2 separate regions of the Homo sapiens genome follow, and region 1 is linked to region 2. Evidence: fine-mapped expression QTL. A gene starts in region 2. The other region holds a variant in brackets. All regions are shown on one strand. Distances are from middle to middle.

Region 1 (16,478 bases), 99 kb before region 2:
TGTGTGAGACAGAGAGAGAGAGAGAGAAAATAACTCTCCCTCCAGCACCCTGAATGGAGAAAGCAAAACAAACACTAACACTACCAAAGAAAACAGAAGGCTGTTTTCTGAAAACTCTACTTCAAAAAAAGACGGCATGGAGTTAGGCACTGAGTGTGTCTACAACTGGAATAAATTATGAACTGTTTCTCTTTGGTATTAATGGAGTTTCACCATAATTTCTTTTTCTAAAAGCAACCTCTTGAGGAACTCATAGCCCTCAAAGCCTTTGCTTAAGCTCTTCCTTCCCTGTACAATGCCCTGAATGTCCAAATCCTAGCTGCTGTGTTGCCTCTGCACGAGGTGTCCATTCATTCATTCTTTCATTCATTTTTCAAACATTAACTTGACTCCTACTAACTATCCTTTACTGTGGCCCATGTAAAACCACAAACCAAACAGCCTCTACCTTTAAGTCAAAGGTCTGAGACCCAGGTTAAAGGTCTGGCTGACCATAGACTGAGATATCTTCCTTCCCTGGGCTCTAAGGCATTCTAATCACATTTCATTTTCTAAGCAACATCAGAGTTCCCAGGTGCTGCAAGTGAGTTCCTAGAGGGCAGGGCCACTGTTCCACCTTCACATTCCACACAGAGCCCAGCCCAGGGCCTTCCACCTCCTGGACAACTGGTCACTTTCTACGCAGTCAGCAATGCAGGAAGCACAGCTCTGGCTTCTGACTTGCAGAGCATCACTCATCATGACTTCCCATTTAACTTCAGTGGTTCACCAGACCCAGGCTAAATACTGTGCTCCCTCTGAAAGGTGGGAGAAGGATTATTTTAAGTATAATTATCTTCTTCCTTCCCCAGGTTAAAGTAGAGGGTCACTTGACTGTGTGGGATAATATTTCTCAATGTTTTTAAACTCATGCTCTACCAAGATTGGATCACACTTTACTTCCTGAGGTTTGTACTACAAAGCTCACTTTCTCTCTAAGACTTCCCACTGATTGTGGTTTTCACACTATACAAGCATCTTCTTGAAATTCTAGTGTACCCAGTCCTAAACCTTGTTCCTCCTTAGCTTAAGAATCACAGGCCATCACCTTCACCTTCAAGATTAGGCTACAGGGGGAAAAAAAAAAGAATCATAGGCTGGTGCAGTGTTCATGCCTGTAATCCCAGCACTTTGGGAGGCTGAGGCAGGAGGATTGCTTAGGCCCAGGAGTTGGAGACCAGCCTGGGCAACATAGCAAGATCCTGTCTCTACAAAAAATAAAAAGTTGGTGTGGTGTGGTAGTATGTGCCTGTAGCCCCAGTTACTCGGAAGGCTGAGGTGGGAGCATCGCTTGAATCAAGGAGGTCAAGGCTGCAGTGAGCTATGATCATGCCACTGCACTTCAGCCTGGGCAACAGAATGAGACTCTGTCTCTCAAAAAATGAAAATGAAATAAAATAAAAGAATCATCAGTGTTCAACTACTTACTATGAGCACTGATAATTAAAGAGAAAAACTTAACTCTGCCCTTTTAGGAGGAATTTAATAGTTCATCCCCTGTTGATGGGAAAGATGTCTTCTATATTGAAGAATGTCAACCAATAAAAGCAGATCAGAATGACAGAATTTGAAAATGACCATCCTACAATCCCCAAAGAAATAACTGATCCAGGCAAGGGTCATCAATGAATGCCCAGAGGATTCCACAAAATTTCCTTTTGGGGGACAGGATATTCACTGGGTGTCAAAGCATTACCCACAGAATGACATGCTAATTGCAGAAGGAAAATACAACGTTTGCAATGGGCAGCAGTGGTCACCACCTTACGAAGTCATCCATATCTAATAATAGGGCACCCTGATATCTTGTAACCCCTGGATGGGATGCTTAATGAAGCACTCAGAATCACCTGGGACACATTTGCACCAAAATGTTGAGTCTGAATCCAATGATACTTAAGCTCAAACTTCCAGAACAGGAGAAAAACAGGGAATAGCAAAAACAAGGTAAGACACCACAAGGAAGTGACAAGACAGACCAGAACAGGAAGCATTTTAAATGGCAATGTTTTATATATTTATATATAAAAATATGTATACATATATATAGAAATATGTATTATACATATATTCACACACATGTGGGGGAGGGACACTGTTCTAGATTAAAAGCTACTGAAGAGATATAACAACCAAATGCAGTACATGAACCATAACAGGATCTAGTTTGAAAAATGCAGCTATAAGCTTTTGGGGGTGGGGGCATGACAGGTGAATTTTGAACGAGAACTGGGTATCAGATATGAGTATGGAATTACCATTAGTTTTCTAAGTGTGATACTGGTATTATGATTAGGCCAGAGAATGCCTCTAATTTTAGGAGATGCATGCTGAAGTATTTAGGGGTGTCATGCTGTCTGTGACTTACCAAATAGTTCAGCAAAAACATACATACATATTTATGTATGATGAGGCTCTGAGAATTTAAGTGAACAGCTCAAGGTAGCACAATCAAGATGTGGAAAAATGATAAATATTTAAAGGTGAAGTGTCGTGATGTCTATAACTTATTTTCAAATGCTACAGAAATATAAATATATATATATACACATACATATACATATACACACACACAGTCGCATAATGACACTTTGGTCAACAACAGGCCCATACTCAGTGGTCTCATAAGAGTATATAATACCATATTTTTTACTGTACCTTTTCTATGTTTCAATCTGTTTAGAGACACAAATGCTTACCATTGTGTTACAACAATTACCTACAGTATTCAGTACAGCAACATGCTGTACAGGTTTGTAGCCTAGGAGCAATAGGTTATACCAATGGGAATATCATAGAGTGAACTTACACAAACCTAGATGGCATAGCCTATTGCACACCTACAAAATCACCTAATGACATAACTCTCAGAACATATCCCCATCATTAAGGAATGCATGACTGTATATTTCTTTTTCTTTCTTTCTTTTTTTTTTTTTTTTTTGAGACAGAGTCTCGCTCTGTTGGCCAGGCTAGAGTGCAGTGGCACGATCTCAGCTCACTCCAACCTCTGCCTCCTGGGCTCAAGCATTTCTCCCACCTCGGCCTCCCAAGTAGCTGGGGTTACAGGTGTGTGTGACCATGCCTGGCTAATTTTTGTATTTTTAGTAGAGATGGGGTTTCACCATGTTGGCCAGGCTGGTCTCGAACTCCTGACTCCGGGTAATCCACCCGCCTTGGCCTCCAAAGGCTGGGATTACAGGCATGAGTCACGATGCCTGGCCTGTATATTTCTTTATAAGACATATATACAGATAGATCTTTATATGTAAATATATATATATATATATACATATATATATATATATATATGAAAACAAGACAAAATGTGAACTAATGTTTAATTCTATAGGTGATCATGGTACCGTTATTTCAACCTTTTTATACATGTGAAAAATTTTAACACTGAGCTGCAAGGGCAAAAAAGAGAATGGTGCAGAGTGGGGGTTACTACTGAATATTAAATGAAAAACTTTAGGTGCTCAAAGATGTCTGTGACTCTGCACCCCAGCGGTAGCATTTTTTCATGGAATTTTCTCTGCTGACCTAGGATGCTGGAGCTAATGTCCTAAGGTGAGCTGTGTTTTGCATTGTAGCTCCAGCTATCCACTTGAACAGAAACTTTAGGAGTCCTTCCAGTTCTTAGAATCTTGACAACTTCAAAATATCAGATGGTGAATCAAAAAACCTCATAGGCCATCTCCAGACTGACTTTTTAAAAATGAAAATACAAATGGGAACTGTTGTTTCATGGGTATGAAGTTTCAATTTTGTAAGGTGAAAAGAGTTATGAAGATTGGCTACACAATCATGTGAATGTCCTTGACACTACTGAACTTTACACTTGAAAATGGTTAAGATGGTATAGTATTTTACCACAATTTTCTTAAAAAAAGAAAAAGACAATACAGGTATTTCAAAAACAAGATGCTTAGTCGAACTATAACACTGCTGGTTGAAAGATAACTTAGGAAAGAAAAGGGGATGATATGATCGCTTTTCCTCCACCTTGCCTCCAGAAGATTCTAATGCAGCTATGATGACAAGACACATGTGGACCATGGGAAGAGTCTGCAGCAGTGCAAGGAGGTGCGAGATTTGGGGGCAAAGTACACGCTGGGCATGGCTAGCATGCACAGGGTGCGGAGAAGGTCCAGGCGGGGTGGCCCGAGCGGCAGGGTGGCTTCCTTAGAAAGTATGGCTGGCCCTGGGGAAGGAGGATGAGGGGCAAGGGGAAGGGGAGAAGGGGAAGACACTAGATGCAGAGGGCAGGCAGAGGCAGAGAAGGGGGCAGGGAAAGGACTCCACTTGTCCAAAGTGCTGCTGCAAAGGGCAGGCCACCTGTCCGGATAGGAAGGGACTGAGGACTTTGAATGCTGTGTTAACTGGTCGATGAGGGAGTGCTGAGAGGTTTTCACTTGAGGAACAAACTGATACATGTGAATTTTCAGAAGATTAATTTTTGAAGTGGTGTGCAGGGAAGATACAGACAGGAAGACCAATTAAATAGCTATTATAAAAATCTAGGTAGGCTATGAGGCAGGCTAGCTGGGATGGGGGTGGGGGAGTGGAGAGAGATGGAGAGGTGCAGGGAATTGCTAAGATGGGAGGGAGGGAGGAGAGGAGGAGGGGGTCTTTCTAAAGATAGTGATGGGGAAAACGCACAGGCTCGGCTTGCTCTTGGGTCTAGTGGAGTCTGAGATGCACAATGACATCTGTGAGGGGCTGTCTGGTGCGGCACCCGGGGGTGGGATGAGCACTCTGTGGAGGAGAGGTCAGGAAAGCTGCAGGCATGTCAGAATCGCCACACACAGGGACCACCTGGGGTGTGAACAGGAGCCAGGGTCCGGAGCAAATGCAGAGCAAACCGAGGGCAAAGCCTCACGCTCCAAGGGAGGAGCTGGCAGAAAGGGCACAAAAGCGGGTGCCATGAAAACTTCTGTGAAGCAAATATGATTTTCAAAAAGCTGTAGGGTTGTCTACTGTTTAAAGAAATGCCCAGTAACTCCATTTGGAAAGCAAATAAGCCCCTACTCTGTTTAAACCTGGCTTGTGTACCGGGTTTGTGTTCTGCCATTAAGTCTTTTGTCTCAGCCACTGAAAGTGGCAGGACTCATCTGAGTCCCTAATTCTCTCTGGGTCCTGCCCCGCTTCTGCAAAAGATGATGAGGAAGGGCACAATGATGGAAGGAGTAACTCAAGGGAACAGAAGCCTGGAGTCTGGGGACTTGGCTAACAGGGCTGTTGTACATGGGTTGGCCAAATGGATTCAACCTTAAGCAAATGTAACCAGTTCTGGTGGGCGTGGTGGCTGACTCCTGTAATCCCAGAACTGTGGGAGGCTGCAGTGGGAGAATCGCTTGAGCCCAGGAGTTCGAGACCAGCCTAGGCAACATAGGGAGACCCCGTCTCTAAAAATAATAGAAAAAATTAGCCAGGCATGGGGGCGTGCACCTGTGGCCCAGCTACTTGGGAGGGAGGCTGAGGTGGGAGGATCACTTGAGCCCGGGAGGTCAAGGCTGCAGTGAACTATGATTGTACTACTGCACTCCAGCCTGGGCGACCGAGCTACTGCCCCTTCCCACCCAAAAATGTGACCAGTTCCTCTTTTCCAGTGGATCACCCTCTTCTTGACAGTCTGGCTGGGATTCTGTCCCATTAAGTGTAAAAGGTGCTTGAACCCACAAGCTCCAGGTCCTTATCAGAAGAATCAAACCACCAGCTGGTAGACAATGGGGTCTGGGGCCCATCGAAGGTCACCTGAAACCCCACACAGAGGAGGTGATTAATTAGGAGAGGGGACAGCACTGAGGAGGAAAGGACTGTCAAGGACTCTTCTGGTCTGTGAAACCACTGAGAGAGAGACAGGGGGGTGACACCAGCTCCTCTGGGACCAGCAGGGCAATCACTATAAAATGCTTAAATGTCCCAGTTAATGGAGAATGGGTGAAATCCAAAGTCACGGGAAGTAAATGTTGCCACATCGCCCTGTCCTCATGTGGGAGATGCATTCTGTGCCTTTCCCAGCCACTCCAATCCAAAGGATCCTCTTTGTCACTGCCCTCTCAGAGACAGTGACAACTAGGGCATCTCTGTGGCTGAAGAAGGTAAAGGACTTTCACACCCACTTAGCAGGCATATCACCATCAAAAGGACACCTCTAATGTGGCAGTATTGAAGAGTGATCTCCGCTCCATCATCCTAGAGAGCACACCCTTCATGAAATTACTAACAATCCCAATGCCATGAGGGAAACTGAACAGCGGCCTAGAAGATGTTCAAAAGGAGGAAAAAGAGAGAAATCATCACTCTAGATAGACGCCCCTGGAGTTGCTTGGCAACCATCTTTGCTAACACCTTCTCCCAAAAAGGAACACAGTTTGCATTAGCTCCTGTGATTTCCCTGAGGCCAGGACTCTGGCCACAGAGGCCCCAAAGCTGGGGCCTTGGAATGAGAGAGCGTTTCCCTGATGGGGAGACCCAGGGCCCTATCAGGAGGCCACTGGCTTACACAGTCAAGGGGGAATGAAAGGTAGTTCAGCCTTGCCATTTTGCTTAAAGAACAAGCTCTCTTGGCCAAGGATGGTGAGAGGATGAGTGAAGTCAGGTGCCCAGGTGCAACACTTAAGGGGCACTCACTCCGCACTTGCAGAAGCCCACGTGAGCCCCTCCTTAAACAGGTGTCCTGGGTGCCTGCTTGCTTCCCCTTAGTCCTAACCCTGCTCCTAGGATGACAGACATCAGGACACAGTGCTTAGAGCACAGTCTCTGGAATCAGCCTGCCTTGGGGTTCAGGGCAGCTCTACTATTCCCCAGCTATGTTACCTTGGGTAAATCACTTGACCTCTCTGAGCCTCAGCTTCCCAATCTCTGAAATAGGGTTGATAACAGGATTTGCCTCACAGGGTGGTCATGAGGATTAAATGCGAACATGCACATTTAGCCCTGTGCCTGGCACCTAGTTAATGCCCAATAAAAGACAGCTAGGATTGTTACTTAAAAACAAAACAAAACAAACAAAAAAACACATAAGTTGGGCTGTGTTTAGCCCAAAAGGTACCAGAAAAATAAATTTAAAACACAAACAAAAAACTCCAAAAGGAAATACATAAGCAGCTCCCTAGAACCCCTGAACCTGGATCTATAGAATCAGAATCTCTGTGGGTGGTCCTGGCATATTTGCTTTTAAAAAGCTTCCCAAGGAATTTTCAAGGTAGGCAGGGTTGAGAACCACTTCTCTCAACCAATAAACAGTAGTTCTCAAAGTTCAGGAAACAACAGAGCCACCTGAGGAGCCTGTTTAAAATGCACGTTCCTGGTCAGGTGTGGTGGCTCACACCTGTAATCCCAGAACTTTGAGAGGCCGAGGTGGGAGGATCACCTGGGCTCAGGAGTTTGAGACCAGCCTGGGGAATATAGCAAGACCTTGTCTCTACTAAAAGTCAAAAAAAATTAGGCAGGCATGGCAGCACACGCCTGTAGTCCTAGCTACCTAGGAGTCTGAGGTAGAAGGATCGCTTGAGCCCTGGAGATCGACGCTGCAGTGAGCTTGATCATGCCACTGCACTCCAGCCTGGGTGGCAGAGAGAGGCCCTGTCTCAAAAAAAAAAAAAAAAAAAAAAAAAAGGACATTCCTGGTTCCTGTGCTTCACTCCCGGTTGTTTCGTTTTAGTATGACCAGCCTGGGGCCGGGGGCACGAAGTACCCTACAGGACAACACAGCAGGGTCTCCAGAATGAACACACTTTGCAAAACATTGAAACAGATTCATTCGTTTTTTTTTTTTCTTTTTTTTGAGACGGAGTGTCACTCTGTCCCCCAGGCTGGAGTGCAGTGGTGCAATCTCGGCTCACTGCAACCTCCGCCTCCCGAATTCAAGCAATTCTTCTGCCTCAGCCTCCCAAGCAGCTAGGACTACAAGCACATGCCACCATACCTGGCTAATTTTTGTATTTTTTTTAGTAGAGATGGGGTTTCACCACATTGGCCAGGCTGGTCTCGAACTCCTGACCTCATGATCCACCCGCCTGGGCCTCCCAAAGTGCTGGGATTACAGGCATGAGCCACAGTGCCCAGCCCCAGATTCACTCTTGAAACTAACAGTACAGGGACACCAGTCCAATCCCTTTGTCTTTATTCGGGGCATCCTTAAAGAACTGGAGACATACAAGTTGACAAAAGATGCCTGGTGAGCCCCGGGCATCCCCCGGAGCAGTAAGAACGCAGTCTGTCCCCTGGAAGTGGCAGCTCTTAAGACAAAGGCGAAGACCCAAGTGCCCGGTAAAAACAACGATCATCACAACAAAGGCTTCCATTACTGAGTACCTACTTTATACCAGATAGCATCTCATTTATTTCCACAACAATTCTGATAGGTACTATTATTCCTACTCTGGAAAAGAAAAGTAGAAATTGAGGCTTAATTTAATACACAGCCAATAAATGGTCAAGATTTAAATAATGCTCCATTAAACTCCCAAGCCTGCAATGCCAATGAACCTTTTTGTGTGTGGTAAAATACACATAACATAAAATTTACCATTTTAACTTTTTTTTTTTTTTTGAGACAGAGTCTCGCTGTGTTGCCCAGGCTGGGGTGCAGTGGCGCGATCTCAGCTCACTGCAACCTCCGCCTCCCGGGTTCAAGTGATTCTCCTGCCTCAGCCTCCTGAGCAGCTGGGACTACAGGCACGTGCCACCATACCCAGCTAATTTTTTGTATTTTGAGTAGAGATGGGGTTTCACCGTGTTAGCCAGGATGGTATCGATCTCCTGACCTCGTGATCTGCCCACCTTGGCCTCCCAAAGTGCTGGGATTACAGGCGTGAGCCACTGCACCCGGGCCATTTTCACCATTTTTTATGTGTACGGTTAGTTCTGTGACATTAAGTATATTCACAATGTTGTACAACCATCACCACAGTCCATCTCCAGAACTTTTGCATCTTCCCCAACTGAAACTCTGTATCATGG[C/A]AACACTAACTCTCCGTTTCCCCTCCCCCAGCCCCTGAATACCCACCATTCTACTCGCTGTCTGTATGAATCTGACTACTCTAGGAACTTCATTATACATGGAATCACAGAGTATTTGTCCTTTTGTGACTCATATACTTTTTGAGAACTGGACTATCACCTTGGTCTGATATAACCAAACTGGGACCATGTCTCCAGCATCTTCCATACCCCTGGAATGCTGAACTCACCTGTGGTTAATATCATCGGACTGGGTGTCCTGTGTCCCCACCCCACCCCAGGACTCTGTGGCCTGTCAATGCCTTGAGGTAAGGTCACGTAACTCACACTCCCCCTACAGTTAAGGGTATCCTTACACCATTAATGTTCACAGATTTACAATTAGCATCACAGAATCAGGTACACCGGTAAGTGCTTCTGTGTTCAAAGAGCCTGTCATCGACTCACTTTTATCTTCCCCATTATGGTGACCTGGTGCCACTTCGTCCTGCCCTGGAGAGTATTTATTTGGTTTCCATTTCTTCTGTAAGCACTTGATCCCTTAAAATTGGCAAGCAGAATTGTGTTGAGAAACCACAGGTACAAGGATAAAGTGTCTCCATAAAAACATTGCTTTCCCCACAGCAGAATTCCAGCTTCACTTATAGACGACTAGGGCAGCCAGGTCTAGCCCCTGAATATTAAGGATGCTCCGCTGTAGCCTCAGCCCACTTGCAAGAAGGGATTTCCTGAGGTTTCATCATTAGTTCAAGCGCCTCAGGGTCCAAATCCAGGTCCATTTGGCAGTCTGAGCTCTACCACAGGAGAGAGTAAGAGAATGCCAGCCAAACGGCATCAGCTGGGAGCACGTAATCAGCAGAACACTGGACCGGGAGATTTAGGAGACAGTCACACACAGAAGTCAGTCCTTGCCATTCCTACAATATTCTGAAAAAGTAGAACCCACTGGCTAAAGCTCTCCCTCTCCATTACGGCTATGTTTGATTATTGCAATCACTCAGTGACCACTGTCTCCAGATGTGAATAGTGGGCCACCTCAGTGTGTGGGGTCCTTAGAGAAGAGGGATTTGACCAGGACAAGGTCTCACTGCATTGAGTACTACCATCTTATGCCTACTTCTGAAATATGTCATGAATGAAACAAAATGTCATAAACGAAACGTTAACCTGAAGGATATAAATGCAACCAACCCGGAAAACCATACAGAAACAAATCTGCCTAACTTTTCTAAATCAATTCTGCAGCAGAGACGGCAGGCCCCTGGGAACCGCCGGCTGAAAGCATCAACATGGCCTCACAGTCTTAACTGATGCTGCAGACCACCTGGCACACAGGTCAGAAGGCCTCAGGAATCAGACCCTCCCCTGCCCTTTGTACCTTCCCAGGCTTAACATGGAAATCATGAAAGCAGCCACTTTGCTTTCCGTCATGTGCATCCCCATTTCAGACATATCCCGTGGGTAATCAAACTGCAGAGAACGCCAGTTGTATTTTCAGCCTGACTTTAAATATAAACTGAAATCCTTACTGCTTCACCAATGCGATGTGGTACTTTTGACATCGGGGGCCACTGTATAATAAATGCCATCATTACCAGAATTGATGCTTTGGGTCTCCTCCACCCACAGTGAAGGAGGGTTGGGCCACCCAGAATTAGAACCTGCAACTCACTATTGTCACCAGTGACTGCAGACTGGACTCCAAGGTTTGGAAGAGTCATCTTGGGAACTTTGGGAGGAGGGTTCCCTGGGGGACCGAGGCTTCTCTCTCTTTAGATCCTCCCAAATGTAGCTCAGCGCCAGGGGATAGTCACAGTACAGGTATATCTGCTGAGTAATCGACAAGGCTGACTTACATGGGCTGAAGGCCTAACACATGGACAGATATTGGCAGAATATTTCTGTATCTTAGTCTATTTTTCTTGTGTTCTTACCTCTCCAGCCTCACCAGCCAGTGATTCTCTATCAGAGCGATTTGTCCCCCTGGGACATTTGGCAATGTACGGAGATATTTTTGGTTGTCTAAACTTGGGGGAGGGGAGGGAGACACTGCTGGCATCTAGCAAGTGGAGGCGCAAGATGCGGCTCAGCATCCTGCCATACACAGGACAGCGCCCCCAAAAAGAAGCATCTGGCTCAAACCATCAGTGGTGCCACTGGTGAGAAATATTATACTACTGTGTGCTTTGCTATCTTTACTCCAGCAAGAGGACTTTTTAGGTTCAGAACAGTCTATATTCTCTGGCACTTGGGCCTTTATCCCTGTCGTTTCCTCTAACTCTGTCCTGCCCAGCTCTACACATGGGTAACTTCCTGTATCCTCCAGGTTTTAGCTTACATAAAATTTCCTCTGGGAGGCCGGCACTGAGCCCCTACCTCAGTGAGGCCCCCCCACCATGACCTCCAGCAGCACCTGAGTTTCCCTATCAGAGCACTCATCGCGGTCTACCTGTACTTTCGCCACCAGGCTGGAAGCACCCTGAGGGCAGGCAGGGGTTGTGGTTTTTCACTGCTGTGTCCCTGGTGTCTAGCCCAGTTCTGGCACGTCAGGAGAGCTCCCTCCAGGTCAAACACATAAGGGAGGCTGAGAAACAGTTGAGCGTATTAAAAACTTGGCAAGACACCCAGAGGCTTAAATTGTTACCCTACTATGCAGGCACCAAAAGAGAACATGGCGACTTCTCATGAACTGACATGGACAGCTCTCTAAGATAAATGGAAATGGCAAGATATCAGCTAATACTATAGGTTTCTATCATTCACGTGAGAACAAGAAGACAAAATTATATATGTATCTACTTGAATGCACACAGAATATCTTTGGAAGAATACACAAGCAACTGGGGATGGGGTGGGAGGGAGACTTACTTTCCACTTGGATAGCCTTTTGAATTTTGTAACATGAACATTATTAAAAAAAATAAGTAGTTTTAAAATGAATGTGTATGTGTGTGTAATGGTCTACATCTTCTAGCAGTAAAAACATTATTCTCATAGAATGATACAGGATGAGACCCTGGTACAGGGCAACTTAGAAGGCAAATTATCATATACAGTGTTTCCGTGTGTCCATTCTAGCTTCCTGTTGTGGAAGTAGACAGAGCCACATTTCTTCCACACGGGAACCCAGGCACAAGGAAATAATTGTATGTATAAAGAAATACTCATTTTGGAAGCTTTGTATTTTCCAAACTAGATGATCAGGATGTCCTTTCTCATCTGTGTTGTGTTGGTTGTGGCATGCCCCTGCTCCATCAGTGGGCTGCACCTGTAGAGCTTATAGGTCTCCAAGCCCTTCCCTTCTCCGTCTCATCTTTCCTCCCTACCACCTTTAAGCCGCTCCATCTCTCCCATCCTTCCATCCCAAAAGCTGGGCCAGATAAGAGAGATGATAATGTAACGCCAAAGTGAACAAATGTTACTGCTTGTTAGCAAAAGGGGAGGAAGGTAGGCTTAATGGGGAATGAAGTTGAAATTAATGGTAAAAATGAGGTTTATCTGTGTAATCTGTGGACTTTGTGTCTTCCCATCTCCTATTAACATAGATAACAGAGTTGTCTATAATGATAAAGGGAAGCTGTTCGCAGTTTCCCATAAATCTCCATGGCCTGCTGCTGGCTTCTCTGGCTTGGATTCTAAGAAAACTTCATTCTTAACCAGGTCAGTTGCCACCTTCTCCAATTTGCTCCCATCCAGCCACAACTGCAAGACTCCTAAGCCTGAGCTGAACATGCTCCTATGTTCTCTGCACCCTCCTATATTCCAGCCCAATTCCACCAGCATCTCAGAAGAACAGCAAACTCTTATAGTCACAGCAATATCTTACTGGCCCCAGCACAATTTTCAAATTGGAAACTTTCCACCAGTTTATCTACATCACATCAAAACATGTGGGAACGTTAAAACACAGGCAAGTTTTCAAAGTGACAAGTGTAGGCTTCCAAGAGACCCAAACAGGAATCTATTCAGGACTTTTTTTTTTCTCAGTGATAAAATAAAACAACTTATCGATCATTGAAAAAAGTTTTTTAGATCTCCCAGTCCCTAGAAAGAACTTTGTATAAACTCTTCTTAGCCATAGGCCATATACAGCCTAAGTATTATTCGACAGCTATTGATAAAACTTATCAATGATCACTTAACTGCACTCTATTAAAAACATTGATATCTGGCCGGGTGCGGTGGCTCATGCCTGTAATCCCAGCACTTTGGGAGGCCGAGGCGGGCGGATCACAAAGTTAGGAGATCGAGACCATACTGGTTAACACGGTGAAACCCAGCCTCTACTAAAAATACAAAAAAATTAGCCAGGTGTGGTGGTGGGTACCTGTAGTCCCAGCTACTCGGGAGCCTGAGGCAGGAGAATCACTTCAACCTGGGAGGTGGAGGTCGCAGTGAGCTGAGATCGCACCACTGCACTCCAGCCTGGGTGACAGAGGGAGACTCCATTTCAAAAAAAAAAAAAAAAAATTTGATATCCATAGAAATTGTTTCTTTAAAAAATCATTAGTGTCATAAAATTACAACAAAATGGTTTACTCTAAAAATAAAGTTTCTGCTACGTATCTTTTCTTTTCATCACAGATTAGTTTAAAATCCTAATTAGAATAAAGTTTTCTAGAGCTAGCTTCATTAATAATGATAATAATAGTAAAAGCCAACATTCATTAAGCACTTACTATGTGCTAAGCCCTTTTGTATTATCTCATTTAATCATCACAACAACCTTATTCTTTTCTGTCTTATAGTTAGGGACACTTATGAGGCACAGGAACCCTATTCCTTATCTATGAATTGGTATTCTTTAAAAAAAAATTCAGGTGAGGCAAGGGGAACATCTTTCTAAATCACTGAGAGCTTTTCCCTAATTAGCTTGAAAAAGCTGAGGAGGAAATTATTTGAAAAGGTTAGCACAGAAGAATGGCCGTCCTTGGAATTTTCTCTCATAAACACCTTTCACAGATTAGGCTAATAAGGTTTCTGGGAGTCCTCCTCTCAGGAAATCTGAATGCCTGACTGATCCAAGCTGACTGGGGTCAAATCATTCCTCACTAGGGGAACACATTGGGTTTTGGACTCAGAACCCCACTTTTCTCGGAATGCTGAAGGCCAAATACCATTCACAAATGATTTGCAGCAGAATATTGCTTGTGTATGAGATGCAGTGATTTTTGCCACCAAGAAGTTATAAATTGAGAAAATAAACCCAGTTATTTTTGAAGTAGTTTAAGATATTTTTAATGTGAGGGCTTGGGTTTTTTTTTTTTTTTTTTTAAGTTTCTTTAGAAACAGTTTGCCTGCTATAACTGCATCTCAAAGGAAGGTACATTCAATAGAGAAGCTTGGGTTCAGAGGTCTCAAAGGGACCTTAGAGGACATTCAGTTCCACCCCCCTTTCTTTAAATATGGGCAAATAGGCCAAGAGAAGTGAAACGACTTCCAAAGGGCATAGATCAAAATGTAGGAAGCTGACTCAAAGTGCTATCCTGCTCCTTCCAGTACCCAGGTTGTCCTGGATATAAGCCCATCTAAGCATATCCACCCATGGATCTAGCAACGCCTTCTGAACCCAGGTGATGACAACATTCAAAAGTATTTGGGGCCAGGTGCAGTGGCTCATGCCTGTAATCCCAGCACTTTGGGATGCTGAGGCAGGCAGATCACCTGAGGTCTGGAGTTCGAGACCAGCCTGGCTAACATGGTGAAACCCATCTCTACTAAATATACAAAATTAGCCGGGCGTGGTGGCGCATGCCTGGACTCCCAGCTACTTGGGAGGCTGAGAAAGGAGAATCGCTTGAACCCACGAGGTGGAGGTTGCAGTGAGCCAAGATCATGCCATTGCACTCCAGCCTGGGCAACAAGAGCGAGATTCTGTCTCAAAAAAAAAAAAAAAATTGGCAAATTCCTCTTAGCTATAATTTAGCTAATTTTAGATGAAATAATAACAATGACATGAAAACTTTATTACAGACATTTCAAAGCATCCAGTTAACATTTCATACTTTATAGGTGGAGAACTGAAAGAAATGGAAAGAATTGAAAGAAAGTTTAAAGGGGTGAGGAATGGGGAACTGTATTACAGTAATCAAGTTATTCAAAAAGTCTGCAAGTCCTTGCTGTGTCTTCTGAAGTTGTGGCCAGATAGAGGTAGAAACCAAAATAATTTTTTTTTTTTTTTGAGCTGGAGTCTCGCTCTTTCGCCCAGGCTGGAGTGCAGTGGTGCGATCTTGGCTCACTGCAAGCTCCGCCTCCCGGGTTCACGCCATTCTCCTGCCTCAGCCTCCCAAGTAGCTGGGACTACAGGTGCGTGCCACCACGCCCGGCTAATTTTTTGTATTTTTAGTAGAGATGGGGTTTCACCATGTTAGCCAGGATGGTCTCGATCTCCTGACCTCCTGATCCACCCACCCCAGCCTCCCAAAGTGTTGGGATTACAGGCGTGAGCCACCATGCCTGGCCAAACCAAAATAATTCTTATTTCACATTTCCAGCCTAACTTCTCTTCCTGAGTTTAGTCTATTAAAAATATATGACACCAATGTTCATAGTGGCATTACTCAAAATGGCCAAAATATGGAAACAACCCAAATGTCCACCAACAGATAAGTGGATAACAAAACGTAGTATATATACACAATGAAATATTATTCAGCCTTAAAAAGGAATGAAGTACTGATCCATGCTACAACATGGATGAGCTATGAAGAGATGCGAAGTGAAATAAACCAGATACAAAAGGATACAGATTGTATGACTCCACTTATATGAGGTATCAGAATAGGCAACTTCATAGAGACAGAAAGTAGAACAGTGGTTACCAGGGCTGAGAGGAATGGGGAATGGGGAGTGATTGCATAATGGGTACAGAGTTTCTGACTGGGATGATGGAAAATTTGGGAAATGGAAAGTGATGATAGTTGTGTAATATTATGAAAGTACTTAGTGCCACTGAATTGTATACTCAAAATGGTTAAAATGATAAATTTTATGCTATGTATATTTTACCACAAAAAAAAAAAAACATCAAAATCGGAACCACCCGCCGGGCACGGTGGCTCATGCCTGTAATCCCAGCACTTTGGGAGGCCGAGGCGGGTGGATCACGAGGTCAGGAGATCGAGACCATCCTGGCTAACACGGTGAAACCCCATCTCTACTAAAAATTCAAAAAATCAGCCGGGCTTGGTGGCGGGCGCCTGTAATCCCAGCTACTTGGGAGGTTGAGGCAGGAGAAGGGTGTGAACCCGGGAGGCGGAGCTTGCAGTGAGCTGAGATTGCGCCACTGCACTCCAGCCTGGGCGGCAGAGCAAGACTCCGTCTCAAAAAAACAAAACAAAACAAAACAAAACAAAACAACAACAACAACAAAAATCGGAACCACTTCCCTTCAATTCCCAGTTGGAATTTCTAAACTGTATTTTGTTCATTCATTCCCATTAAAGCCGAATTTCTTCTCAAGACCT
Region 2 (16,478 bases):
CGAGAGCGAGCGAGCGAGGGATGCCAGCATGCTGTCACCTCTCAGTGCTGCCATGCGGTGAGCTTCAACCAGAGCCACAGCTGGCTGACTGGATGGATGGAAGGAGGGGTGCTTCTACAGAATCTGTTGCTTGTGGCCAGGCATTTTCTTCAGAGAACAAAACAGTTCTCTGCGATAACCTTAGCATGCACAACAGGGCTTGACACACAGTAGGTATTCAATATTTCTTGAGTGAATAAATAAATGCCACCTAAAGGGAGAAGGGGGAAGAAGGAATCAGCTGGCATGAAGATGTTTGAACAAAGTGGCAGAGAGGGTAAGTAGGAGGAGACCCATAGCTTGGGGTAGGGGGCTCCAGGAAGCCAATGAAGGATGCTGGAGAAGGAGCTGGCTTCAAAGCAGTTAGACAATTGCCCACAAGAATGACCTGGTAGAATCACCATATGACCTGGTAATTACACTTCTAGGTATTTCCCTAAGAGAAATAAAAACCTATGTCGTGCAAAAACTTGTACACAAATGTTCATAGCAGCATTATTTTAATAGCCAAAATGTTGAAATAACCCACATGTCCATCAACTGATTAATAAGAAAATTAAATTGTGGTCTATCCATACAACGGAATAATATTGGGTTGGTGCAAAAGTAATTAAAAGTAATGGCAAAAACCGCAATGACTTTTGCACCAACCCAATATTATTCAGCAATAAAAAGGAATGAAGTATTGAGCCATACAACAAAATACACGAACCCAAAGAACATTATGCAAGTAAAAGAAGCCAGTACAAAAGGCCACATATTGCTGGGTGCACTGGCTCCTGCCTCTAATCCCAGCACTTTGGGAGGCCAAGGCAGGCGGATCACCTGAGGTCAGGAGTTCGAGACCAGCCTGGCCAACATGGCAAAACCCTGCCTCTACTGATAATACAAAAATTAGCCTGGCATGGTCGCACGCGCCTGTAATCCCACCTATTTGGTAGGCTGAGGCAGGAAAATCACTTGAACCTGGGAGGCAGAGGTTGCAATGAGCTGAGATCACGCCACTGCACTCCAGCCTGGGTGATGGAGTGAGACTCCATCTCAAAAAAAAAAAAAAAATTTTAAAAAGGCCACATATTGTATGATTCTATTCATATGAAATGCCCAGAATAAGGAAATCTATAGAGATAGAAAGTAGATTAGTGGTTGCTAGGGTTGGGGGCGAGAGTTAGAGGAAAATTGAGAGTAACTGCTAAGGATTGAAGAGGTTTTTCTTTGGGGGGGATGAAAATGTTATAAAATTGATTATGGTGATGGTTGCACAACTCTATGAATATACTAAAAATCACTGAATTGTACACTTTAACTGGGTGCATTGTAAGGTATGTGAATTATATCACAAACTGTTTAAAGAAAAAAAAAAGAATTATCTGGGGACGTGAGCCCAGAGAGCAGGCAGCCTAGCCCACAGTCACAGCAGGTGCCCTGGAGTCAGGTGGGGCTGAGCCCCAAGGACGTCTTCTCAGTCACTCTTCCACCTGTGAAGCCAGGAAAAGGACCCTACCAGTGGGTCCTGAGAGCCTTGGCTTCAGAGGAGCCCCTCCCATGGTCCTCAAGGCCAGTCAGGGGATGCAGCTCCGGGGTTCTAGAAGTGAGAAGGGCTGTGGCACTTCTTTATTTCTATCCCTGCAAGAGCTGGCGGGGGCGGGGGGGGCTCTCACTGGGTCGATGTTTGGGGTGGGTGTGAGAGGAGAGCATGGCACGAGGCAAGGAAGTATAAAGTAAGATCAGTAATTCCATGTTTTTTGAGCACTTACTATGCATCTGGCACAGTGTTAAATGTGAAGCAATTGGAGTGCAAAGAAGCATAAGAGCTTCTCTGTCCTGGAAAACTTGCCAAGGCTGCATGGAGACAGATGTATAAAAGATCCATGAGATGTGGTGCTAAAGCAGTGCGTGTGCTAGGACAGTGGCCCACAAAGAAGACACGGGGAGGGATGTGTTTCTATTCTTGCAAGCAGCTTTGTGCATCTGCATGGCACCATTGCTGTGAGCATGGGTCTACCCTGAGTGCCTTTCCTGAGGGAGGCCTGAGATGGGGGAGGTGCTTGAATGATGGAACCTGGGTGTTCTGTTCTAGGTTTTGGATTCCTGGAAGCCCATAGTTCCAGTCCTGAACAAACGGACCATGAACAGAACTGCCCCGCAGATATAAAGGTGATGAGGCTTGCAGGCCAGCCCACCAATGCTCGTGGAGCTGCTAACAGAGCCCAGCCATTGCACAGTACTTCTGTGTCTCATCTTAAGGCTGTAATATTTAAAATACAGACAAGTACAGTTAGTTAATGATGGGGATACATTCTGAGAAATGCAATACTAGGCAATTTCATCATTGTGCGAACATCATAGAGTGCACTTACACAAACCTCGATGGTATAGCCTATTACACACCTGGGCTGTATGGTATAGTTTATTGCTCCTGGGCTACAAACCTGTACAGCATGTTACTGTACTGAATACTGTAGGCAATTGTAACTCGATGGTATGTATTTGTATATGTAAACATAGAAAAAGTACATTAAAAAATACTGCATAAGGCCGGGCACGATGGCTCACGTCTGTAATCCCAGCACTTTGGGAGGCCGAGGTGGGTGGATCACGAGGTCAGGAGTTTGAGACCAGCCTGGCCAACATAGTGAAATCCCCTCTCTACTAAAAATACAAAAAACTAGCTGGACATGGTGGCGGGTGCCTGTAATCCCAGCTACTTGGGAGGCTGAGGCAGGAGAATAGCTTGAACCCAGGAGGCGGAGGTTGCAGTGAGCTGAGATCGTGCCATTGCACTCCAGTCCAGGTGACAGTGCGAGACTCCGTCAAAAAAAAAAAACAACAACAAAAAACTGCATAAATGATTTTTTAAAATGGTACACCTCTATAGGACACTTAACATGAATGGAGCTTGCAGGACTGGAAGTTGCTGTAGGTGAGTGAGTGAGTGGTGAGTGAATGTAAGGCCTAGGACATTACTGTACACTACTGTAGAGTTTGTAAACTTAGTCCACTCCATTTATTTTTCAATTTTTCTTTCTTCAATAATAAATTAACCTTATCTTACTGTAACATTTTTACAAACTTTTATATTTTTAAAACTTTTGACTCTGTTGTAATAACAGCTTAAAATACATTGCACAGCTGTACAAAAATATTTTCTTTCTTTATAGCCTTAATCTATACTATTTTTCTATTTTTTTTTAACTTGCAAACCTTTTTTGTTAAAAATGAAGACACAAACACACACATTAGTCTAGACCTGCACAGGGTCAGGATCATCAATGTCATGTCTTCCACCTCCACATCTTGTCCCACTGGAAGGTCTTCAGGGGCAATAACACACATGGAGCTGCCATCTTCTATGATAACAATGCCTTCCTCTGGATACCTCCTAAGGGCCTGCCAGAGGCTGTTCTACAATTAGCTTTTTTTTTTTTTTTTTTTTTTTTTTTTGAGATGGAGTCTCACTCTGTCACCAAGGCTAGAGTGCAATGGCGCGATCTCGGCTCACTACAACCTCTGCCTCCCTAGTTCAAGAGATTCTCCTGCCTCAGCCTCCCAAGTAGCTGGGACTACAGGTGCTCACCACCATGCCCAGCTAACTTATATTTTTAGTAGAGACGGGGTTTCACCATGTTGGCCAGGTGGGTCTTGAACTCCTGATCTTGTGATCCACCCGCCTCAGCCTCCCAAAGTGCTGGGATTACAGGCGTGAGCCACGGTGCCTGTCCAGCTTTATTTTTTTAAATAAGTAGGAGTATACTCTAAAATGACAGCATACATTTATTATCATTATAAGTATTATGTACTGTACATAACCGTATGCGCTAGACTTTTGCATAACTATCAGTGCAGTAGGTTTGTTCCACCAGTATCTCCCCAGACACATGAGTAACATGTTGCACTATGATGTTACAACAGCTACAACGTCACTAGTTGATAGTAATGTTTCAGCTCCATTATCATCTATGGGACCACCATTGTGTACGAAGTCCATGGTTGATGGAAATGTTGTCATTATGCGGTGCATGACTATATGTTATAGATTATGTAAGGGTAATTGAGTTCCAAGTTCCAAGTCAAAAAATGTTTGGAACACAACTCCTTTGCTAGCAAATTAGACACTTACAGTAGCTAGTTCCCAGGGAAGTCCCCTGAAATACTTTAAGGGCCTGAATCACTGCTGAGCCAGACAGCATGTAGGAGAAGGCTCCTGGGTCTCATGTGAAGCTGGAGGGGTGCCTGCCCTAGAGATTCCGACCCTGCCTGAGGAACCCATTCATCCCATCTGGCTGAGACCTTGGTGGATCCAGGACAGCTCAGCATGCTGGCAGTCAGGGACAGGAGAGCCAAGGACCGCAAGGTCCCATTCAGCCTTGGTGCGATTCAGGCCCAGTTGGGTGTCTGGTGCTAGGACTAGGTGCTTTCGGAGGGAGATGGGAATTGACACATGGGCAGCAGCCCGCGGCAATGGCAGAAACAACCTCGGGGCTGGAAACAGAAGCTGTAATTACAGGAGAAAACACCCACAATGAATTCCAAAAGATGACCCTTTTGCTCCCTAGAACCAGGGAGGGAAAGGAAGGGGAGGCACGATCTCCTGGTAAAAACAGGGTAACATGAAAAATGCTGTGCAGTCAGGCTGAAAACTAAACAGATGTGAGTTTCTTTAATACAAAAGTTTAATCATTCTGACGTTTTCCATAACTTAATCTGAGCCATCGCTTCAGCTTGAATTATGCATAATGAAATGGATTATTTACAGTATCTCACATGACAGGAAAAACTGAGAGGTGAGAATTGGTAGCTTGGCAACTGTTGTTTATTTTTCTTTTTATTTGGCCAATATATATTGAGTACCTACTATGTTTCAGCCCTTGCCAGGGTCCTATTAGGAAAAAATAGTGTGGCACATGCCTGTAATATCAACACTTCGGGAGGCGGAGGTGGGAGAATCGCTTGAGCCCAGAAGTTTGAGACCAGTTTGGGCAACATAGGGAGACGTCCTCTCTAAAAAAAAAATTTTTTTAATTAGCCTGGTGTGGTGGTGCACGCCTGTGGTCCCAGCTGCTCCAGAGGCTGAGGTGGGCGGATTGCTTGAGTCCAGGAGATTGAGGCTGTAATGAGCTATGATCGCGCTGCTACACTCTAGCCTGGGAGACAGAGTGACAGTGAGATCCTGTCTCCAAAAAAAAAAAAAAAAAAAAAAAAAGTATTTTTAAAACACATAGTATGGGCCAGTTTCTTTCACTTCTTTCTCTTGTGTATCGCTTGCGATGATACTGTGTAGCAGGTATTATTTTCCCTGATTTACAGAAGTGAGTGGAACTGAGATTCTGAAAGGTTAGGTAAATTGCCAAAGGTGACACAGCAACACTCCCTTTTGTTTTGTTGTTGTTGTTACTATCTATGTGCTTCGAACAGAGACCTATCGACTAGCTTTCCTAATCTTACTACCTTTCCTTCATGCTTTACACAAGAAAAGTCAACTTTTCTTAAGGGAAAGGTTCTTGTTATTTTGAGCAGGAAAGTAAATGACCAAAATTGTACTTTGGGGAAATTAACCTAAGTTTCTGTAGGATGTGCTGCGGGCCAGAGCCCAGGCCAGAGGCAAGGACCTTAAGCCAGGGCAGTAGCAACAAGCATGGGAAGGGGCCCGGCAGCAGGCCCTGGAGGCTGGAAAGGGCTTGTCAAATGTTTGGATGTGGTGGAAGGGAAGGGCAGCCTTGCCACCCTAGGTTTGGGACGCAGGGGACACAGGGGACACTGGCAGGTGGCGCAGCCTGGGTCAAACCCCTCACTCTCTGAGCCCTTCTTGCTTGGCACCCTTGCAAATAAATGCCTTCCTTTCTATTGCTGCAAAAACCTCGGTGTGGATATCCGGTTTTACTGCACAGGGTGAGTGGACCCAGTTTGGTTCCATAACACTGTCTCCCTCTATCCCTCGTTGGTGACCTCCGTGTAGCAGGTGCTAAAAGCTGGTTCACCTGTGGGGCATGTGTAGTTTTCAGAGCGCCTGTGGGGTCTCGTCCAGACTGGGAGGCTCTGACTCAACTCCCCACCTTCTTCACTGCATTCCTGCCCCCAGCCTTGGGCTGCTGGCCTCTCCTCCCCTAGCTGGCAGAGGAATGGGAGAGGTGGTCCAAGCCCAGCTGCCTTCCACTGTGCCCACTACTTCTCTTACTGCACCATGTCAAGGGGACAGGCCACTGCTCGGCCGTTCTCTCTCTGCTCTGCTGTTGCTCCTTCTCAGTGGAGACTAGACCCCAGCCCGCGTTTGTTCACATGCCACATCTTGTGCCCTGGCACAGGGCTGTGTGGAACAGAAAGGCATCGTGAAGGGCAAGACCTGCATCACTCCCCAGTGGGCAGAAGCCTCACCACTCCAGTAACCTTCCTTCACAGCCTTCTTCGAGGGCTGGAGGGGCGGTGGTGGGGGGTGGAGTCAGAGGGCAGTCTTCCACCTCAAGTCAGCCTCGAGGAGGGGTCTGCTCCCAGCTCTCAGATCTTGTCTTTAGAACGAGTGCCAGTTAATTCCCAAGTCTGAATCCTACTCATTGATTCAGGACAGCAGAAAAACTCCCACTTCCCACCCCTGTTTCTGGAAATGACCACAAGCCTGGCTACAGGGCGACCGAGACCATCATGGGTGGACTACGCACGTCCAGCTCTTAGTGTGGTCTCCGTGTCTCGGTTTTCTCTTTTGACTTCTCTTTTGGAGCTCTTGGTTGAGACACTTGGTGAGTGTGGACTTTTAAGGTAAACTCTGAGCTGACCAGGACTGGCTGGTTGGTCTCTTGGGTGCTATGCAGTCACAGAAGCAGGTAATCAAAGAACAAACAGTCCTGTGGTGTTTGGAGTCTCCCTTGGCTACCGCCAAAGCCTCTGTTTGATTTCTTGCATGGCAACAAAACCAGGAGGGGAAGCTGAGTGGCTTCTGGAATAAACTTTGGGTGTGAGACGGGATTCAGGCTGTGGCTAATGTGCTGGAAGCACGCACAGTTGTGACCATCAAGTATGCAGGAAGCAATCATTCTCCTGGCTCTCCTGGGTGCCATGTCAGGTAGGAACTCAATTTTGCTTTGGAACCTTGCTTGCCTACTTGGTCTGCATAATACCATTGAATGACAATGTCCCCCAGAAAGGAAATTGCCCCTGGGAGGCTTGTTCAATTGAGGGCTTAGCTGCAGTAATGAATGAGGTGATGCCGCTCCAGGGAGCCCTGGGGGACCAGGTAGGAGCCCTGGAAAAGAGAGATGCTTAAAGAGCCTAATCTAATCTATGTTGGTGTAGACTTCACTTTCCCTCTTGGGTTAACTGGCCTGCATTTGGTAGTCCTCCTGAGATTTAAGGTTGGGAAAATAGTGTTCATAGCAGAGCTTTGTGAGTATGTCAAGTGAGTCTTTGTGGAGATTCTGGCCCTTTTCTGGAGGCTCGTAGGGCAACTTGAGGTTGACAAGTGATCCTTTGAGGAAAGTGAGTTACTGAGGGGGTGTCTTCCTCTTGAGCAAAGAAAACACCTTCTGATAGAAGGGTCAAAGACTCAAGCTAGTGATCATTTTACTCTCTCTTCCTCATTCAAGGGCATCAAGAATCTTAGATGATCTTTTTAATGTCAGCTTGGATTATTGAAATTGAGATTTTAAAATTAAATTTTATTTCTGAATAGGTAGTATATGCATAATATATTGAATTTATGTTAAATTTGCAAATTAATTTAGGGATAATTTACATCTTTGACAAGTTATGTAGTAAAATACTTAGAAGAGTGTCTGAGTACATAGTAAATGCTTAGTAAATGTTAGTGAGTATTATTTATGATCTTGAGTCTTCCTAATCCAAGAACAGGGTTCTAGATACTTGTTTGAGTCTTCATTTGTTTTTCTTAGGAGTATTTTGAGGTTTCCTTCATATAGATTTGGTACATTCTTATTATGGTTATTTCTAGTTCTTTTACTTTTTCTTTTTTTACATTTGTAAATGGAATCTCTTCTTCCCTACATCTTTCAACTGATTATTGTATGATGTATGGAAATCTGTTAACAAATTATCTTATTATTTGGCATGGTTTTTCAGGTGATTCTCATGAATTTTCCACGTTTGAAAAAATGAACATTTATATTCTTCTTCTCCTATGTCTATAGCTCCTATTTTTTTCTTATCTAACTGCCAGGCCTGGACATTCTGACCATTATTAAATAATGACAAGAGTGTAAATTCCTGTCTTGTTTCCCATTAAGCATGATGTTAACTTTTGGTGTGAGAGAGAAATGTTTTATATGTTAAGGAGGTGGCTTTTATTCTTATTAATATAAGAATATTACAGTATTTATTTCTAAATAAAAATATAATAAAACTAAATGTAAGAATATTCAAGTACTTATTTCTAAATAAAAATGGATTTTTAAATCAAACGCTTTTTCAAGATCTATGAAAATGACCATTTAATTTTCCTCTTCGATCTGCTAATAAGATAAATAAATAACTGGGTTTCCTAATATTGAGCCCTCTTCTATCTTGGGCTTTTCAACTCAGCAGAGGGCAGGATGACCTGTGAATGTGAAGTGGGCCATGAGCAGTTCAGACTGTCACTTGAAGTAAACATTTCAGATTTCCCCCAGAAATATGGGCTTTTAGGGCCACAATCATTTGAGTCGAGGTGACTTTTATTGTCACTGGGGAAAGAGTGAGGTTAGGAAGAACCCAATTTCTTATACTGAACACTATCATTTGGAATTTTATCAGAAGTGTGAAAGGGATAGATCACAAAGGTTTGCAAGAAATACTTGAGATTTCTTATTTAAAACACACAATAGAATCCCTTAGGTCAAATCTTGTTTTTGGAAGGGCTACTGTGACACAAACTGTTTCTTTTGTGAGTCTGAGAACCTGGTCATTACCCTCACACTCCAACACCTGGGCTACAGAGGCTTCTAGCGGGGCAGCCACATCAGCACCCCTTCAGGCTGTTGGAAGCAGGCATCACTATAATAATCTCAAATAAAGTAACATACAGTAAAAAATTAGCAGAGCATGAAGACGGGTGCCTATAATCCTAGCTACTCAGGAGGCTGAGGCAGGAGAATCGCTTGAACCCAGGAGGCGGAGGTTGCAGTGAGCTGAGATTGCGCCATTGCACTCCAGCCTGGGCGACAGAGTGAGACTCCATCTCAAAATAAGTAAATAAATAAAGTAACATAGAGTATCCTCTTTCCTTTCATGTGTTCTAACTCCTATGCTTCCTTCAAGGCCCAACTCAAGCCCCACCCCCCCCCATGGAGTCTTCCTGGATTGACCTAGCTCCTGGGGAGTGCTCCTGCTGTTGCACCCTGGAGCTCCTCTTGCCTGCACATGGACTGCCTGCAAAGAGTTCAGTCCAGCACCTAATGCAGATTCAGTGCTCAGCCAAAAGTAGCATGAGCTATCATACTGTAATTCATCTGTTATATGGCCATTTCTGCCTCCTCAACTAGAATGTCAGCCCTGCAATAACAGATTTCATATATCTTATTGCTCATTGTCCCTGTGTGCCACATATATAGAGGATATCCAATACATATTTGCTGTTTTTATTTTTATACTTTTTGAGTCTGGTATGGTTTTTTCCCCACATTTACTGATACACCCCAAATGTAGAGCTTTAGATCTTCTTCCTGCTTGATATTGACATTTAAATTCACTTCTGTCCTTTCCACCTCCTATGAAGATGAGTTTCCCTTTGTGAAGCTATAGTGCCTATTCCACCAACAGCTTACAAAGGGAGGCTCTACAAGAATATAAACTAGACAAAACTTTCAACTGCCCCAGTGGAAAGAGTTGAGACAAAGCAGTCATCTGGCTCCATCAGTCCCAAAGGATCACATGTGAGTCCCAGAAGATGAAGGACATAGAGAAGGACCCTTGGTATTTTTAAATCCACTGCACATGGAAGCTGTCTATGTTTTGAAGAAGCATCCAAGGAACCAGCTTTTGTATTACCCTCCTGGAAATGAAAAATGCCAGGGTATTTAATGAAAGAAGGGATCCTTGGGAGCCAGAAGATTCACATGGACATGAAAAGGTACCAAACCCATCCAACTGAGTTTGTCCGCAAGCTCTGGGCAAGAGGCAATCACAGCTTTCTTCAGCCCATCATCTGTGCGTGGTTCTCTGCTAGCCAGTGTTGGCAAATCAAACAAAGGCCCAAGACTGAGTTTCTTATTCTCCTTGGTAATTAAAATGTAAATGCTTCTTAATGCTCTCATCATATGAAAAGGCTGGAAGATGCAATCCATTTCTAGAAAGTCTTTCTGTCAGCCAATTAACCCTATGTATCAGGCCCAAAGAGTGTTGCAAGAGGTTTCTACTTTTTCCGTCATGTCACTTTCCTGTTCAGAGTCACCTCAGAAGAACAAAAGACAGTCCCTTCTCTCAGCTCTTCCTTGCCCATGGCAACCTCACCCCCAGTGCAAGCAGTCAGGCAGTCACTGGAATCCATCCACTTTCGCCTCCATGTAGTTGGAAGAGATTTGAAAGAAACAAGCCTTTCTCAGGCCCACCCCATAGTGATGCTCTAAGATAAACACGTCTGTTTCTTGCCAGTTATGACCTAGCTGGTGCAAAATTAATCTTGGTTTTTGCCATTGAAAGTAATGGTAAAAACCACAATTACTTTTTTTTTTTTATTATTATACTTTAAGTCCTAGGGTACAGGTGCACAATGTTCAGGTTTGTTACATATGTATACATGTGCCATGTTGGTGTGCTGCACTCATTAACTCATCATTTACATTAGGTATATCTCCTAATGCTATCCCTCCTCCTTCCCCTCACCCCATGACAGGCCCCAGTGTGTGATGTTCCCCTTCCTGTGTCCAAGTGTTCTCATTGTTCACTTCCCACTTATGAGTGAGAACGTGCAGTGTTTGGTTTTTTTGTCCTTGCGATAGTTTGCTAAGAATGATGGTTTCCAGCTTCATCCATGTCCCTGCAAAGGACATGAACTCATCCTTTTTTATGGCTGCATAGTATTCCATGGTGTATATGTGCCACATTTTCTTAATCCAGTCTATCATTGATGGACATTTGGGTTGGTTCCAAGTCTTTGCTATTGTGAATAGTGCCACAATAAACATACATGTGTATGTGTCTTTATAGCAGCATGATTTATAATCCTTTGGGTATAACCCAGTAATGGGATGGCTGGGTCCAATGGTATTTCTAGTTCTAGATCCTTGAGGAATCGCCACACTGACTTCCACAATGGTTGAACTAGTTTACAGTCCCACCAACAGCGTAAAAGCGTTCCTATTTCTCTGCATCCTCTCCAGCACCTGTTGTTTCCTGACTTTTTAATGATCACCATTCTAACTGGTGTAAGATGGTATCTCATTGTGGTTTTGATTTGCATTTCTCTGATGGCCAGTGATAATGAGCATTTTTTCATGTGTCTGTTGGCTGCATAAATGTCTTCTTTTGAGAAGTGTCTGTTCATATCCTTCACCCACTTTTTGATGGAGTTGTTTGATTTTTTCTTGTAAATTTGTTTTAGTTCTTTGTAGATTCTGGATATTAGCCCTTTGTCAGATGGGTAGATTGCAAAATTTTTCTCCTATTCTGTAGGTTGCCTGTTGACTCTGATGGTAGTTTCTTTTGCTGTGCAGAAGCTCTTTAGTTTAATTAGAACCGATTTGACAATTTTGCCTTATGTTGCCATTGCTTTTGGTGTTTTAGACATGAAGTCCTTGCCCATGCCTATGTCCTGAATGGTATTGCCTAGGTTTTCTTCTAGGGAAAAACCACAATTACTTTTACACCGACCTAATATAATGTACAGAATCACTAGTTGAATCACCTTTCCTTCTGTGTCCTATAAAGGGCTCTTTTCTGTTAATCTTGCTTGGCCTGGATTGTTCCTTGTTCCTCCCAAAAAAGGGGGTGGGTGAACATCTCATTCAGGAAGAGGTATATATTGTGGAAATTAAAGAAATAGGAAAAAGTTGCATATGTTGAAACAACATTTGACAATGCTTTATAGTTTACTGAGCATATGCATTTTCTTTTCTTTCTTTCTTTCTTTTTTTTATTTTTTATTTTTTTGAGATGGAGTCTTGCTTTGTTGCCCAGGCTGGAGTGCAGTGGCGTGATCTGGGCTCACTACAACCTCCACCTCCCAGTTCAAGTGATTCTCCTGCCTCAGCCTCCCAAGTAGCTGGGATTACAGGCAGCTGCCACCACACACTGCTAATTTTTGTATTTTTAATAGAGGTGGGGTTTCACCATGTCGGCCAGGCTAGTCTCAAACTCCGGACCTCAGGTGATCCACCTGGTTCGGCCTCCCAGAGTGCTGGGATTACAGGTTGAGCCACTGTGCCTGGCCGAGCATATGCATTTTCTTATGTGGCATCTGTGCTGTGAGAATAAGTTTCCATAGGCCTGATATTAGCCTGAATTTTTCTGCTGAAGTTCGTGAACCACACTGACCCCTAGTCAAGGCATGAAGCATGCTGATTAATAGTGTTGCTTTGGCTAGGTGCGGTGGCTCACGCCTGTAATCCCAGCACTTTGGGAGGCTGAGACGGGCAGATCATGAGGTCAGGAAATTGAGATCATCCTGGCTAACACGGTGAAACCCAGTCTCTACTAAAAATACAAAAAGTTAGCCAGGCGTGGTGGCGGGCACCTGTAGTCCCAGCTACTAGGGAGGCTGAGGCAGGAGAATGGCATGTACCCGGGAGGCGGAGCTTGCAGTGAGCAGAGATCGCGCCACTGCACTCCAGCCCGGGGGACAGAGCGAGACTCCGTCTCAAAATAAAAATAAAAATAAAAAAAGTGGGCCGGGCGTGGTGGCTCACGCCTGTAATCCCAGCACTTTGGGAGGCCGAGGCGGGCGGATCACGAGGTCAGGAGATCGAGACCATCCTGGCTAACACGGTGAAACCCCGTCTCTACTAAAAATACAAAAAAAAATTAGCCGGGCGAGGTGGCGGGCGCCTGTAGTCCCAGCTACTCGGGAGGCTGAGGCAGGAGAATGGCGTGAACCCCAGGGGGCGGAGCCTGCAGTGAGCCGAGATTGCGCCACTGCACTCCAGCCTGGGCGACAGCGAGACTCCGTCTCAAAAAAAAAAAAAAAAAAAAAAAGTGTTTCGTTGTAACCGTGGGTCCTAGGAGTTTCTGAATGGTTTGTAGCAGCTTGTAAGCGTTGTTTATTGATAACAGTGGGATTGATTATTTGCACCTGGTCTCAACGAGGACCTTCTGTGGGTTCTGCCGTTGAGGCCAGTTATAGAACAAGAATATGCCTACAGCAAAATAGAAAAAAATCCCAGTAAAGACTCCATAATTCCAAGATATTTGTGCATACATTGGCTGTTCCTGATCCAAGACAGTGCATTCTTCCGTCCCATAGAGAAAAGACAACAGTAAGAGCCTAGCCTGCACCTGGCCTCTGTGGATCTCCTGCTGAGGCAGCCTTCAGCTGTAGTGCATATCCTTACTTTCATGTTGTTGCTATGCTGTATCCGTTTTCTGTAATAAAACTGTAGATTTATAAGCATTGTCACTTGGGTCCCATGAGTCTTCTTTAGCAAAGGAACCCTGTTTAGTGGCTACTGTTAATGTAGCACCATAGCCCTGAGAGACAGAGTTGACAGGAACCCCCAGAGAAGTCAAGGGACCAGCCTAAGGTCACACAGTCAAGCAGTGGCAAAGCTAAGACTTGAAGCCAGGGGTCTGATTCCAAATCTCTCGTTCTTTTCACAGAACTGATTTTGTTCACTGCTGTTTGATTAGGTACTAGAGAGAATGAAGAGGTAGCTATTGAGTGATGGTCTCAGGGAGTCCTGCTCTGTGTATTGAAAGCAGAGCTCTAAGTTAGAGCAGCTACACCCCAAGAAGAAGATGGCATCACCCCACATTCTTGACCCGCATCTCCACTTTCAGTGTCAAAGGTCCAGGGTGGCCAACTTCCTCCTCTCTGAGACTGTGGAAGGCTTAATTATCCCAACATAGGCTCCCAGGGAAGCCCCATTGGTCCATTTCTGGAGAGGCAGTGATTCAAGGGAGACAAGTGAGCACATCCTGCATCCAGATCTTAGCCACAAGCAAGATGTTTCAGTGGGCGCCATGGCTGACAATAAATCTTTTGCATGCTCTTTCTTTTCCAAAGTACGTGCTTCAAGCAATTCTAATTTGATTCTTAATTAAGATGCATGTGTAAGTCAAATTCCATTAGAGCCTCCTTCTTGCTCTCTAGCACTCAGACCACCAAAGAAAGCCTGGAAGACCAGCCATGGAAGGAAAGTATGCGGTGTTTTAGGGAGAGCTGGCACCTGGCCTCTAATCTTCCCTCTGCCATTGACCAGATGGGTGCCTTTGGATACATCACTTAAGCTTACCTGTATAACAGATGGGTTTAACATTTTGTGAATATTGTATCTTATTCATTACTCTATTTTTAGGGTATGGACCCTAGTCACTTATTATCCTTGCTATTGCTATTATTACTACTACTACTTCTTTTACAAATAGCAATAGAGCTGGAGAAACCGGATTTTGAATTAAGGTCAGGAGAACCCAGCTTGGCTATCTTTTTAAAAAAATCAGTATCCCCAGCACTTTGGGAGGCCGAGGCAGGTGGATCACAAGGTCAGGAGATCAAGACCATCCTGGCTAACACGGTGAAACTCCGTCTCTACTAAAAATACAAAAAAATAGCCAGGCATGGTGGCAGGTGCCTGTGGTCCCAGCTGCTCAGGAGGCTGAGGCAGGAGAATGGCGTGAACCCGGGAGGCAGAGCTTGCAGTGAGCCAAGATCGCGCCACTGCATTCCAGCCTGGGAGACAGAGCGAGACTCCATTTCAAAAAAAAAAAAAAAAATCAGTATCCCTAGGACTGCCTAGGTCTGCCTCAAAGGACTGCCTAGGACTGCTAGGTCTGCCTAGGTCTGCCTCAAAGTTTTAAGGATTCATTTGCATGACCCTGGCACACACGGCCTTGCCCTGGGAAGAGAGGCCACCTGAAAAAATGTAGATCATTTCTAGCAAGAATATCGGCAGAAAGGGCATATCCAAGGACAGTCTGGCTTTCACCATACATGGGACAGGCGGTTCCCAATAAAAATTGCTTGAGAGTCACTGGCTATATCCACTTCTTCAAAAATATCTCTCACTGCCATTCAAAATATGACCATTCAAGGAGGACGATAAAAAACACTCTGATTTAAGGAGACATCATGGAGCTGTCCTTGGAGTCAGATGCCTAGGATTGGAATGCTGGATCTTTCATGGAATTAGTCTCTCAGACCCAGGAATTATCAAAGTTATGATCAATTCAAGAAAATCAGTGGATATACTTCTAGCAAAGCAAACCAGGAGCTATCAGCAGGCAATATTTGGGGAGCATGGCTTCTCTACAGTCCCCAGCTCCCCAAAGGAGCTGCACTAAGGTTGGGAGGCACAGTGATCTCTCCACTCGGGGTGAGGCTGTGGAGAGCCCTGAGTGGAGCTTAGCAAGTCCCTTCTACCTGAGCTCACACCACGCTCACACTCCAGCACAATTCTTCGTGTTGTTCCAGAAACAGCCTCTTACAAATCACATCATCAAGATCTAACATCCAGGTTAAAGGTCAATTTCTTACCAGCCCCCACAGCCATGTTGTTGCAGTGTCCCAGGGTGACTGAATAACTATGATGCATCCTATGTGCATGGTCATGTGACAGGCATGGAGTGACCGACTGTCTGTAGTAGGTATGTGTAGTCTGTTAGGTACAAGATCCAGATACCATGAGCCAGGGCCCTCCATGACTGTTCCCTGAGTGGTATAATCTCAGATGTGTGCAATGGTGACAGCAGTATAATCTCAGATGTGTGCAATGGTGACAGCAGTATAATCTCAGATGTGTACAATGGTGACAGCAATACCTATGTCGGAGGATTGTGCTGGGATTAAGGGGATCAGGCAGTCAAGGAGCTAGCATGATGCCAGCTGAGCAGGTGCTTGATAAATGAAATGGGTACTTATTTTAGTCTATTCGTTTGGGCTAGGCACGATCTTACCCTAGGCTATTATTGAGAAAAACATAGCAAGTTCTAACTTTGCTTGTTGCCTGGAGGGGCACGAGTCACTGGAGAGGGTTGGAGGGGGCAAGGGAAGAATATGGGTGAGAATGTGGGCATCCCATGAGACAGATTGCCAACTTTCCATTTCCTGTACAGCTGTCCTTGTCTTGCTAAACAGTGAGGGAACACTCTCATGAACAGCTCAGAGAGGTATGCATTTGCGAGAAAAGAGAATGGGAGGGAATTATGCCCCAAATACCCAACCCATCAAAGCAATAGAGTATTTTGCTCATTTTGAAAAACTGTTTTTGAGAGCTTTGTCTCTAAATACTCCAACCATACTCTTTCACTCCTGGTTTTTACCATAAGAATGCTATAATATCAAAGTCAATTGTAATAGATTTTTAAAA

Alleles and levels. Positions count from the first base shown, and alleles are read on the strand shown. Sizes are in standard deviations (SD) of each study's normalised expression.
With allele C in place of A in region 1, the expression in breast of the gene that starts at base 6,993 in region 2 is higher (small effect, 0.32 SD a copy in GTEx).

Evidence for each region.
Region 1: its variant is fine-mapped to the expression of CDHR3 in breast (GTEx, PIP 0.93).

What each region holds. Positions count from the first base shown.
Region 1 is chr7:105,856,818-105,873,295 of GRCh38, forward strand. All of the region lies in intron 2 of ATXN7L1 (ataxin 7 like 1), which reads right to left. Among named protein-coding and RNA genes, the nearest start is that of ATXN7L1, 12 kb to the right of the region's middle. The variant C/A (reference allele first, on the strand shown) is at 9,013.
Region 2 is chr7:105,956,272-105,972,749 of GRCh38, forward strand. It overlaps CDHR3 (cadherin related family member 3), which reads left to right and starts at 6,993. Exons shown (of 19, transcript NM_152750.5): 1 at 6,993-7,093. The coding sequence starts at 7,048. RefSeq lists enhancers at 1-445, 5,546-6,497, 6,498-7,449 and a silencer at 7,032-7,326.